Homo sapiens: one gene and its partners. The protein of the gene in region 2 purifies or fractionates together with the protein of the main gene of each other region. This does not show direct contact. Each region holds a gene or a part of one and is shown on either strand. Other genes may lie near its edges. The genes, in order: PIGU, ART4 and GPM6A.

Evidence for each region.
Region 1: the proteins of ART4 (region 2) and PIGU purify together in Homo sapiens (affinity purification with mass spectrometry; one large-scale study listed by BioGRID and IntAct). This does not show direct contact.
Region 3: the proteins of ART4 (region 2) and GPM6A purify together in Homo sapiens (affinity purification with mass spectrometry; one large-scale study listed by BioGRID and IntAct). This does not show direct contact.

The regions. Positions count from the first base shown.
Region 1 is NC_000020.11:34,586,459-34,590,114, forward strand, and holds part of PIGU (GPI-anchor transamidase component PIGU), read right to left. Parts: intron 2,150-3,656; coding exon 1,995-2,149; intron 1-1,994. UniProt on the Homo sapiens protein: Component of the glycosylphosphatidylinositol-anchor (GPI-anchor) transamidase (GPI-T) complex that catalyzes the formation of the linkage between a proprotein and a GPI-anchor and participates in GPI anchored protein biosynthesis.
Region 2 is NC_000012.12:14,833,512-14,837,167, forward strand, and holds part of ART4 (ecto-ADP-ribosyltransferase 4 isoform 1 precursor), read right to left. Parts: intron 1-3,656.
Region 3 is NC_000004.12:175,669,192-175,672,847, forward strand, and holds part of GPM6A (neuronal membrane glycoprotein M6-a), read right to left. Parts: intron 1-3,656. UniProt on the Homo sapiens protein: Involved in neuronal differentiation, including differentiation and migration of neuronal stem cells. Plays a role in neuronal plasticity and is involved in neurite and filopodia outgrowth, filopodia motility and probably synapse formation.

The DNA of each region.
Region 1 (3,656 bases), on a different chromosome or scaffold from region 2:
CAGAGCATGAAGAGCTGAAGTTAGCAAGTCATTGTTATGCTCAGCCAGGATTTAACACAAATAAGCAGTCCAGAATTCCAAATGGGAGTTCTGCCACTCAGATCCCTTCCACACATGCACAGGTTTAAGAGTCTGTCACCTATTGGGCTGTGAGCTCCCCAAAGCTTAGGGAGCAACCGAGTCTTCGGCACCTATGCAGAGCCTGGCACGCAGAGGGCATTCGGAAATGTTTATAGAATTCATGAATATAAACTCAGACAAGCCTGCAATACTCAAGTCCATTTGAGTTTTCCCTCAAGGTTTGACGTGTGGCAGGTGGCATTATTTTCAAACTGTCAGAGGCCCTCTTGCACTAGAGGAACACATCCATTCCTGTTTAGAATTGAGCCCAAACCTCCCAGTTAGAGGCTGGTATTTGCTTTGGATGTTCCCAGGGAGTGCTCTTTAACCCACTTATGCTGGAGGTTGCAAATTTTTTTGTGTGAAAAATCAGACCTTGGCGATGACCTTGAGCAGTAGGACGTAAATAACTCCCACAAGCTTCGTGTTCCAATAATAGAACACTAGGCATAAATGGGTTAATCCCACCATATCAAAGGTGTGTTTCAGAGTACAGGTTCTCAAAGTGTGTTCCCTAAACCAGCAGGCCAACAGCACTGGCATCACCTGGAAACCGGAGAAATGCAAATTGTTGATCCCTCCCCAAGACCTACTTAATCAGAACCTCTGAGGGTGGGCCCAGCAATCTGGGTTTTAATAAGTCCTGCAGGTGATTCTGATGCACCTTAAGGTTTGAGAACCGCTGCTATTTAATATAAAGGCTTCCTGTGGTCCCTCACCCTCTGAGTCCAGCTAGAGCTATGAAAACCAAATTAGCTTCCAGAGTTTTGTCGGGGGGGTTTTAACTGACAACATATAGTTGTACGAATTTATGGGTGATTTTATGTGATGTTATGATTTCTGAATACTATGTAGAATAATTAAATCTAGCTAGTTAACATTTCCATCACTTCAAATATTAAACATTGTTTGTGGTGGGAACGATTGAAATTTACTCTCTTAGCAATTTTGGTATATACAATACTCTATTATTAACTATATTCACCACACTGTGCTAGTACTCAAGAAAAGAAAAGAAAAAAACATATTCCTCCTGAGATTTTGTACCCCTTTGACCATTATCTCCCCATTCTCCCACCCTGCCGGCATCGGTAACCACCCTTCTACTCTCTGCTTCTATGAGCGTAATTGTTTTAGAGTCCACATATAAGTGAGAACACATGCGGTATTTGTCTTTCTGTGCCTAGCTCATTCCACTTAGCATCAGATTCTCCAATTCCATCCCTACTACTGTCATAAATGACAGAATTTCCTTTTTTAAGACTGAATAGTATTCCCCTGTGTATATATACCAAATTTTCTTTATCCATTTGTTTGTTGATGGACATTTAGATTGATTCCATAACTTGGCTATTATGAATAATGCTGCAATGAACATGGGAGTGCAGACAAATCTTCAACAAACTGATTTCAAAAATTTTGAGTCACCTGCAATCCCAGCACTTTGGGAGGCCAAGGCAGATGGATCATTGAGACCAGCCTGGCTAACATGGTGAAACCCTGTCTCTACTAAAAATACAAAAATTAGCCGGGCGTGGTGGTGCATGCCTGTAGTCCCAGCTACTCGGGGGGCTGAGGCAGGGGAATCACTTGAAACCAGGAGGTGGAGGGTGCAGTGAGCGGAGATGGCCCCACTGCACTCCAGACTGGGCAACAGAGCGACACCCTGTCTCAAAAAAAAAAGAAAAAAATCCTTTAAGTAAGTAGCCGGAAGTGGGATTGCTGGATCAAATGGTAATTCTATTTTTAGTTGTTTGAGGAATGTTCATACAGTTTTCCATAATGGCTGTACTAATTTACATTCTTGACAACAGTATACAAGGGTTCCCTTTTCCCCACAGCTTCTAGAATTTTCTAACGTGGTCATTACTTACATAAAGCCATAGACTGCGGGGATGAAATCCCAAGAGCTGAGAAGGAAGAAGGAGAGGCAAATGATTACCACTAGGCTTCCCACATACATCATGGCATACTCCCAAGAAAAGATCCAGAAGGCTTTGCTCTTCATTTTCACAGGTATGTACTGCCGCTGGAGAGAAGGCAAAGTGATATAAACTTAGGGATGTAAACAACAGAGGGCAGCTATTAGCTTACACTTAAAGATCCCTCCCGCAAAACCATACTATGATACACAGGTTTATAATTTTGCTTTGGTCTTTAATTAACTAAGAAGGATGTAAGTGTTAAAAAGGTATTACGGGTGCATCCTCTGACCTCAGACCTAGTAACACCATTTCTAGGTATGTATCCTGGAGACAAGTTGCAGAAGATACAAATGGAGGAAGATTCATTGCACCATTGTTTGGAATATCAAGAAAAAATCCTTCAATAGAGGAACAAATAAATTGTGGTATATTGACATATGGTATACTATTTGCCAGGTTAAATGAATATATTGTATCTATAAATGTCAACATGGCTAGATCTAAAAAATATGAGGTTAGTTATAATAGAAAATTGCTAAACAAGCCTATTATATGAAAATACTTATGTGTTCTGAGATTATACCAAATAATACTATTATTTACACACACACACACACACACACACACACACACACACACACACACATCTGTAAGTTTCATAAAACATAGATTAGAAGGACATATACTAAAGTTATGATAGTATTAGCCTCCTGGGAACCAGAGAGGAAAATATAATTGGAACCTAAGAAACTTCATATAACCTGGCATTCATATGCAAAATGAAAAGAAATAAACAAGTAAAAAAAGACTTTAAAAAAACGCCAAATTTGGGTTAAAAAAACTTCAACTTTATCTGCTTTCCTTTGTTTGAGACAGAGTCTTGCTGTGTCGCCAAGGTAGAGTGCAGTGGCACGATCTCGGCTCACTGCAACCTCTGCCTCCAGGTTCAAGCAATTCTCCTGCCTCAGCCTCCCAAGTAGCTGGGACTGCAGGTGCGCACCACCACACCCAGTTAATTTTTGTATTTTTAGTAGAGACGGGGTTTCACCATGTTGGCCAGGATGGTCTCCATCTCTTGACCTCGTGAATCACCCACCTTGGCCTCCCAAAGTGCTGGGATTATAGGCGTGAGCCACTGCACCTGGCTTTTTTTTTTTTTTTTTTTTTTTTTGAAACAGAGTTTCGCTCGTTGCCCTGGCTGGAGTGCTACGGCGTGATCTCGGCTCACTGCAACCTCCACCTCCCGGGTTCAAGGGATTCTCCTGCCTCACCCTCCTGAGTAGCTGGGACTACAGGTGCCTGCCACCACGCCCAGCTAATTTTTATATTTTCAGTAGAGACAGGGTTTCACCATGTTGGCCAGGCTGGTCTCAAACTCCCGACCTCAGGTGATCTACCCGCCTTGGCCTCCCAAAGTATTGGGATTACAGGCATGAGCCACTGCGCCTGGCCTCACATATTTTATTAAGTATGACAACAGCAATTATGAAACAATATAGCAAAAATCTTAATATCTGTTTAGTTTGGGCAGTAGACATATGGCTATCATTATACATTTTCTAAATTTTTCCTCTCTTAAAAATGTTTTCCTCAAAAAAAAAAAAAGATGCT
Region 2 (3,656 bases):
GCGGAGTCAATAACCTGACTTACAGGGTGATTGTGAAAACTAAACAGATAATGGGTGTCCAAGCGTTTTGTAAACTAAACTGCCAAACAAATATCATTTTATCAGTGTATTATAACCTGATTTTGGTCATCTCTGCCTTAGGGTATAAAGTCTGGAAGAAATACATAATGATTATAACTTTTATTTCATGAAGTCTGAATCTGAATTTTATCAGACTGTTCAGAAGTAAATAGTCCTTAAACAGAAAAAGGTAAAGCTGACGTGCAGTATACCAAGTCTAGTGTTTGAGGCAAATGCTATCTATAGCCTCTTTCTGTCAAAATGCAAGGAGCAAGAGTGTTAATATTGTAGAATATTACCTAGCAAAAACTTAGCACCCGAAAATGAAAAGCGTTATTCCTTCTGCCTCTTCCTTTGTTTCTCTTCTTACTATCAATTTCACTGAAGCACATGCTTGTGCCATTAAACCATTATCCCACTTCCATGTGCAAAGTACTTTCCCAGAGTTTCTCAGTTGTGTTTGAAAGGAGGCAGAGACACCAATGCTATCACAACATTCCCACAAGATGAGTATCACTTCCATTTTATAAATGAAGAAACAGGCTCAGAGGTTAAGTCATTTGCACAAGGTCACCTAGCTACTAACATATACCCAAATCTTTCTGGCTCCAAAGTTTATTCACTTTCCACCATGCCGTGTGGTCTCCCAGATTTATTCAATGACTCATTCTTTCATCCATTTATCTGAGACAGACACTCTACTTCAAGGTCATTGTGATGCCACAAATAGGGTAAACTAATTTTAGATAATTGAAGCCCAGAGTAAAAGAAAACAGGCAAAATAGAAAGCTAATAAAATAAATAATAATAATGATAATAGTATCTTAAAAGTTTTGAGTACTTAACATTTGTCAGATACTATTCTAAGAGATTTTACATGCATTCATTCATTTTCTCCCCACTAGAATCGTACAGGTTTTTAAAAAGTGAAGTTTACATGTAAAACCAGGCTGACTACAAACAATTGCCTATATTTCTCTAGAAACATGTTAAGAATTTTGATTATGTGAAACATTTTAACAAATAAATCCCTGTTCTTTGTGAATCCAATGATATAGAACAGAGCATGTATTTGTGTGTCTACAGATTTTTGGCATAGGTTATTTTGCTGAAAGAAGCAAGATTTAAGGGCAAATAACTAACATTCTGTTAACATATTTTGAGTCTTCCAATGGGCATGAAGACACCTGTTTCTATGGCAACCAGTACAGGTCATGTGAGGGGTGATGGAATAATTAGAGAGGAAAGCTGTTAGTTTAGAATGACAATTTTTCCTTTTGCAAATTTACTTCCTTAAATAGTATAATTCTATTAATTTGATCTCTTGTCTCTCTAAAAGCAACAGATTCCTGGAAACTCTTTAAACTTGAGTTACATGCTAACAGGACTGATTTTAGCATAAATTGAAGGACTGGAGAAGCTATGCTCTTAAATATACTGTCTCTTCTTTGGGAGAATTACAGTATGCTGCTGGGTAATTTTAAAGGTCTTCAAGTGGTCTTTCCAGTATCACGTCTGTCAGATTGAGAGGGAACAGGAGAGAAAACATAATTCACTTGGCTTATAGGGACTTCTGGGGACACAGAATAGCTTGTGGCTCCTGCTCATGAAACAAAACGAAGCTGAAAGAATGAGAAATAGTGTCCAGAGAAGATTACAGTTTCGTGAGGAGTTAGATATCAGTGTTCCAGAACACCATCTGTGAATTCCCTAGGCTGGGGTTAGTGGAGCAGTGAAGTGGGAAATGGTAGCTATCTAGAAAGTTGGGTCTGGGGAGAGTCCACTGATCTTACTTCCTCCCTGTTAAGGATCCCAGATAAGAAAGACACACTACCTCCTTCCTCTTATTGTTCATGTATGGCTCAGTCCAATACTGCTCCAGAATGTTGGGGTAAGTACTACTTATCAGTTAAAATAAATCACTTTAAGGACCTTTCTGATGTTCCTTCGCTTACTGATTGAGAGAAAAACAAAGAAACAAAGAAACAAACAAACAACACTGTAGCGAATAACTGAAAACATTCTGAAGGCAATCAAACTTTTTTTTTTTTTTTGACGGAGTCTCATTCTGTTGCCCAGGCTGGAGTGCAGTGGCGCGATCTTGGCTCACTGCCACCTCTGCCTCCTGGGTTCAAGTGATTCTACTGCCTCAGCCTCCTGAGTAGCTGGGATTACAGGCTCGTGCCACCACTCCTGGCTAATTTTTGTATTTTTAGTAGAGACGGCTTTCACCATGTTGGTCAGGCTGGTCTCGATCTCCTGACCTTGTGATCCACCTGCCTCGACCTCCCAAAGTGCTGAGATTATAGGTGTGAGCCACTGCACCTGGCTGGCAATCAAACATTTTTTAAATCATAAGAGATAGATATTGTGTCCTGTCCAAGACTGTATTCAGTAGTGTCCCTTTATCCTTAGTGGATACATTCCAAGACATTCAGTGGATTCCTGAAACTACAGGTAGTAGTGAACCCTATGTTATTTTCATATGTGTATGTATGTATATACATATATATATATATCATCAATGATAAAGTTTGAAGTGTGGCAGCAAAACTAGCATGAATTTCTTTTTCCTTCTTCACAATTCCACAGGTAGAAGATTCATTTTTACAGTAGATCTTAGCAACCTCAGCATACAATTTTTTCTTTCTTTCTATTAAGTTGAGAACTTTAAACTTTTCATTCAAAGGAGGCGCTTTCTCTTGGGCATATCTGAATCTCCAAGATCACTATTCTTTCACTTTGGGGCCATTATGAAATAAAATGAGGGTCACTTGAAAACAAACACTGCAGTACCGAGACAGCAGATCTGATAACCGAGAGGGCTACTAAGTGACTCACAGTGTAGACTGTGGATGATTCACATCCCAAGAGGGAAGGCACAAGATTTCATCACACCACTCAGAATGGCATACCATTTAAAACTTAGGAATTCTTTATCTCTGGAATTGTCCATTTAATATATTCTGCGGGTAACTGAAACCAGAGAAAGCAAAACCATAGGTAAGGGGGCATTACTGCAATTTTTTGCCCTCAACTAAATGACTGTGATGCTAACTAGCCAATGGCAGATGAGGCTTAGGTAGGTCAGGTAGAACCAGAGGATGGACCAGCCTTCTCTGCAACCCTTAGTCAGAGTCTGGGATCAAAGGAAGAAAGGCATCCCTGCAATGTGAGCTTATTCCTCTCCTTCTTTTACCTTCCCAGATAGTTTCGTAGCTGTGGAGGGTGAGAAAATGCTCCAATTCCAGCTCTTGGCTGATTATATGATGCCTCTGACCTATCTCTTCCCTCTTCACTTCAATTTATAAAGAAAATATTAAGTTGAGAACTTTAAACTTTTCATTCAAAGGAGGCACTTTCTCTTGGGCATATCTGAATCACCAAGATCACTATTCTTGCACTTTGGGGCCATTATGAAATAAAATGAGGGTCACTTGAAAACAAACACTGCAATACCGAGACAGCAGATCTGATCACTGAGAGGGCTACTAAGTGACTCACAGTGTAGACTGTGGATCCCCCAAACAACGGGATGATTCACATCATGACCAGTGGTATTTTTATTCTGCCGTTTACAAGCTTTTCTGCATGGC
Region 3 (3,656 bases), on a different chromosome or scaffold from region 2:
TTTTAAGCTATGGAACGGAGCTGTGAGTTATACAGAATAGATTTTAAGATAATTATACAGAGTATGTCTTAAAAATACTAATCTAATATGCTGTGGCCAAATCTACAAACACCTGAGGCTAATAAGACAGATGTTTTAAACTAAACAAATAGAATAAGGGTTGAAAATCCTTTGTCTGAAATGCTTAGGGCCAGAAGTGTTTTGAATTTCAAATTTTTTTTAGGTTTTGTAATATTTGCATTAACTTACCAGTTGAACATCCCAAATCCAAATACCCCAAATCTGCAATGCTCCAATGAACATTTCCTTTGAGCATCACGTTGACGCTCAAAAAGTTTCACATTTTGGAGCATTTCAGATTTGGGATTTTCAGATTAGGATATTCAACCTTTTATGTTTCTTTATCTCTGAAACAGGGTAACAATAGCAACTAGTTAATTTTGTTTCTTTAAAACTTATATATGGAAGAACATTACTGTTATCATAAGACTGTTATGAGTTGAATTGTGTCCTCACAAAATTCATATGATGAAATTCTACCACCAGTGTCTCAGAGATTGACCTTATTGCTCTTTACTGAGTTGAAAAAGTAAAAAATTAGGTCACTAGGGTGGGCTCTATTCCCATATGACTGCTGTCCTTATAAAAAAAGGGGAAATTTGGACACAGCTTTTCAGGCAGGAAGAACATCATATGAATGTGAAGGCAGTGATGGGTGAAACTTCTATAAACCACTGGATGCCAAAAATTACCAGCAGCCAACCAGAAGGTAGGGGAGAAACATGGAACCGGGTGTTCTTTACAGCCCTCAGGAAAAAAAAAAAATCAACCCGGTGACACTTTGGTCTCAAACTTCTAGCTTCCTGAACTGTGAGACAATGAATTTCTGTTGTTTAGGCCATCCACTTTATAGCACTTTGTTGTGGTAGCCCTAGCAAACTAGTAAACACACTTCCAAAAGTTATTATTGTTTTATTTAACTCTTAGAGCAGGTAGATTTATGGAAAATACATTTATTGAAAATTCCATAGAGTTTAGTACATTTGGGAAATCTATTACTTCGAAAGTGTTGCATTTAAAAATCTAAATTTCAGAAGAAGTATAGATAAATTCTGAGATCCATAATGATGTCACAGTAGCAATCGGAAATTTGTAGAAATAAGAAAATTGGGGATGGGGGCAAAAAATATCTCAAGATTTGAAAATGTGACACACTGAAGGTCTCCTAATTTGCAGCGGAATAAATATGTTTTGGCTTAAACTTTAATAAGAAAATATGGTTAAAGAAAATAAATACTTCTACATTAAACTTAAAAAGGTCATGTTCAATGTAGTCAATAACATGTATTTGTACTCAATTTGGTGCCATTTAATATTTAAGGTAAATAAATTTTGTTACTTAAAATACTTTAATAACTTTTCATATAATGTTTTAATAAAGTCGTTAATAATGATTTTCACCCTCAAAATTTAATATTGTGGTTTTACGTGCCTCAAATTCTGGATTTTGAATGACAGATAGCATTAAAATATTGTAATGAACTTGAATTGGTGCTGATACCGCATGAAAGGAAACACAGAATGCAGACCAAGTTATGCTTTCAAAGGCATTCATTAAGTAAAGGGAATATTGATTATCACTCTCCATTCAGTGATACAATGTTGCTTCATTTTTTTTTTTTTTTTTTTTGAGACAAAGTCTTGCTCTGTCGCCCAGGCTGGAGTGCAGTGGCACGATCTGGGCTCACTGCAACCTCTGCCTCCTGGGTTCAAGCGATTCTCCTGCCTCAGCCTCCCAAGTAGCTGGAATTACAGGCGCCTGCCACCATGCCCGGCTAATTTTTTTATTTTTAGTAGAGACAGGGTTTCACTATGTTGACCATGCTGGTCTACGAACTCCTAACCTCGTGATCCGCCTGCCTCGGCCTCCCAAAGTGCTAGGATTACAGGTGTGAGCCACCACGCCCGGCCTGCTGCTTCAAAATTAATTGCATTTGTGCTGATATAATTTCAATTAGTAACCATTTACTTTTTATGCAGCAGAGAGAAACAGGGATAGAATAACAAATTTCTGTTAGTATTAACTAAGGAAGATTTTTATATACTTGTTGCAAAAAAAAAAAATCCACCCTTTAGTATTATTCAGTGTTCCAACTAGAGCTGCACCGATATAGTACCTTCAAAAGCACAGACTCATTCACAGCTACGGAACACAGGCAAAAGAGGTTAACAGGTTCACTTTGAACATAATAAAGTAGACCGTAAGATACAATCTGCCTACAAACGAAAAAAAAAAAAAAAAAAAAAAAAAAAAAGCAGCATCAGTAGAGTGGAAATAAGTAGCAGGAGAGGGTGGACGATAAATCTTTCTTTTCCCCTCGATTTCATGGAGCTACAAGTCCTGCGTGATATGCAAGCTGAGGTGGGGGTGTGGAGGAATGGTTGGCAGAGGGGAAGGGAGGCAGGGTTCTGCAGCGCTGGCTGCAGCCGCCACTGTTTACTTCTCAGTCGTGGAGCTAGCCCCCTTCGTGAAGGCAGTGTTGGGACAGCCAGGGTATGGCTCAGAGCCTCACCCGCTGCTCTGCTGTCTCTGCAGAACGCAGAAGAATGCAGCTCCTACTCCTGTCTCTGCTCTGCTCATTCCGGGGTGTCAGGGAGGTGTTACAGGAGTGGGCGGGGCATCTTGCTGGGCTGACACCCTGCTGCATTGCCTCTGGAGGAGCCCACGCAGCAGCTGCTGCCACCCTTCTGGTCTGTTGGGTGGGACTGGTGACACAATTGTTACCATTATAGAAAAAAAAAAAAAGAAAGAAAGAAAACGTGGCTCATGTTTTGCTTCGAAAATTCCTATTTGAAATACCTTTAAGATGCTTGAATGGCAGGCAGATAACCAAGTGCATCTCTCTCTATATATAGATATGCAATTCTTCCTTGATTGCTTTGTCTTTTTATTATGAAGTTATTTTCAAATTCTGAATGAAATAACACAATTGACTGCACTCGTCCTGGCAGAAGGTTATTACCTTACGGTAAAGACGTGCTTTCAGACCCCCTTATCTCTTTATTTTTTCGTTAGGGTTTTAGAATCACAGACTCGTTGAGCTGGAATAAGCTTTAGAAATGATCCTCATTTTGTAAATGAGGAAACTGTGATCCATAAAAGGTAAGTAACTTGCCAAGGCACACCAGTGGCATTACAATGTTACTGTTCCAATTGTAATAAAAAGCCAATTACTATATAACTCAATTCACTATACTCTATTGACAGAAGGGAAATGAATCTTAAAATCGGAATTTGCCTTTTTACTGGAGAAATTGCTTGGGCATCACTGAAAATTGGACCACAAATTAGTCATATTTTATTTTTTCATCAATCCAATATCTCTCTGTAACTAAGTTTCCCTGGATCTATAATTCGCTATTACTGATTTAAATAATTTCAATAATAAGGCACAATTTAAAGCCCCTTAGTCACATTATTGGGATTCCAGTTTTACTCCTACTCATATATTTTATCTCTTTGGGTGTTACAATAAGTTTTGTCCCAAACTAAAAACAGATGATTCTTATAAGAAATAATTCCAGAGACCACTACAAATACCCACAACTCAGGCAAACTATCTTATCAGATTATTGTTGCTGTTGACACCAAGAAG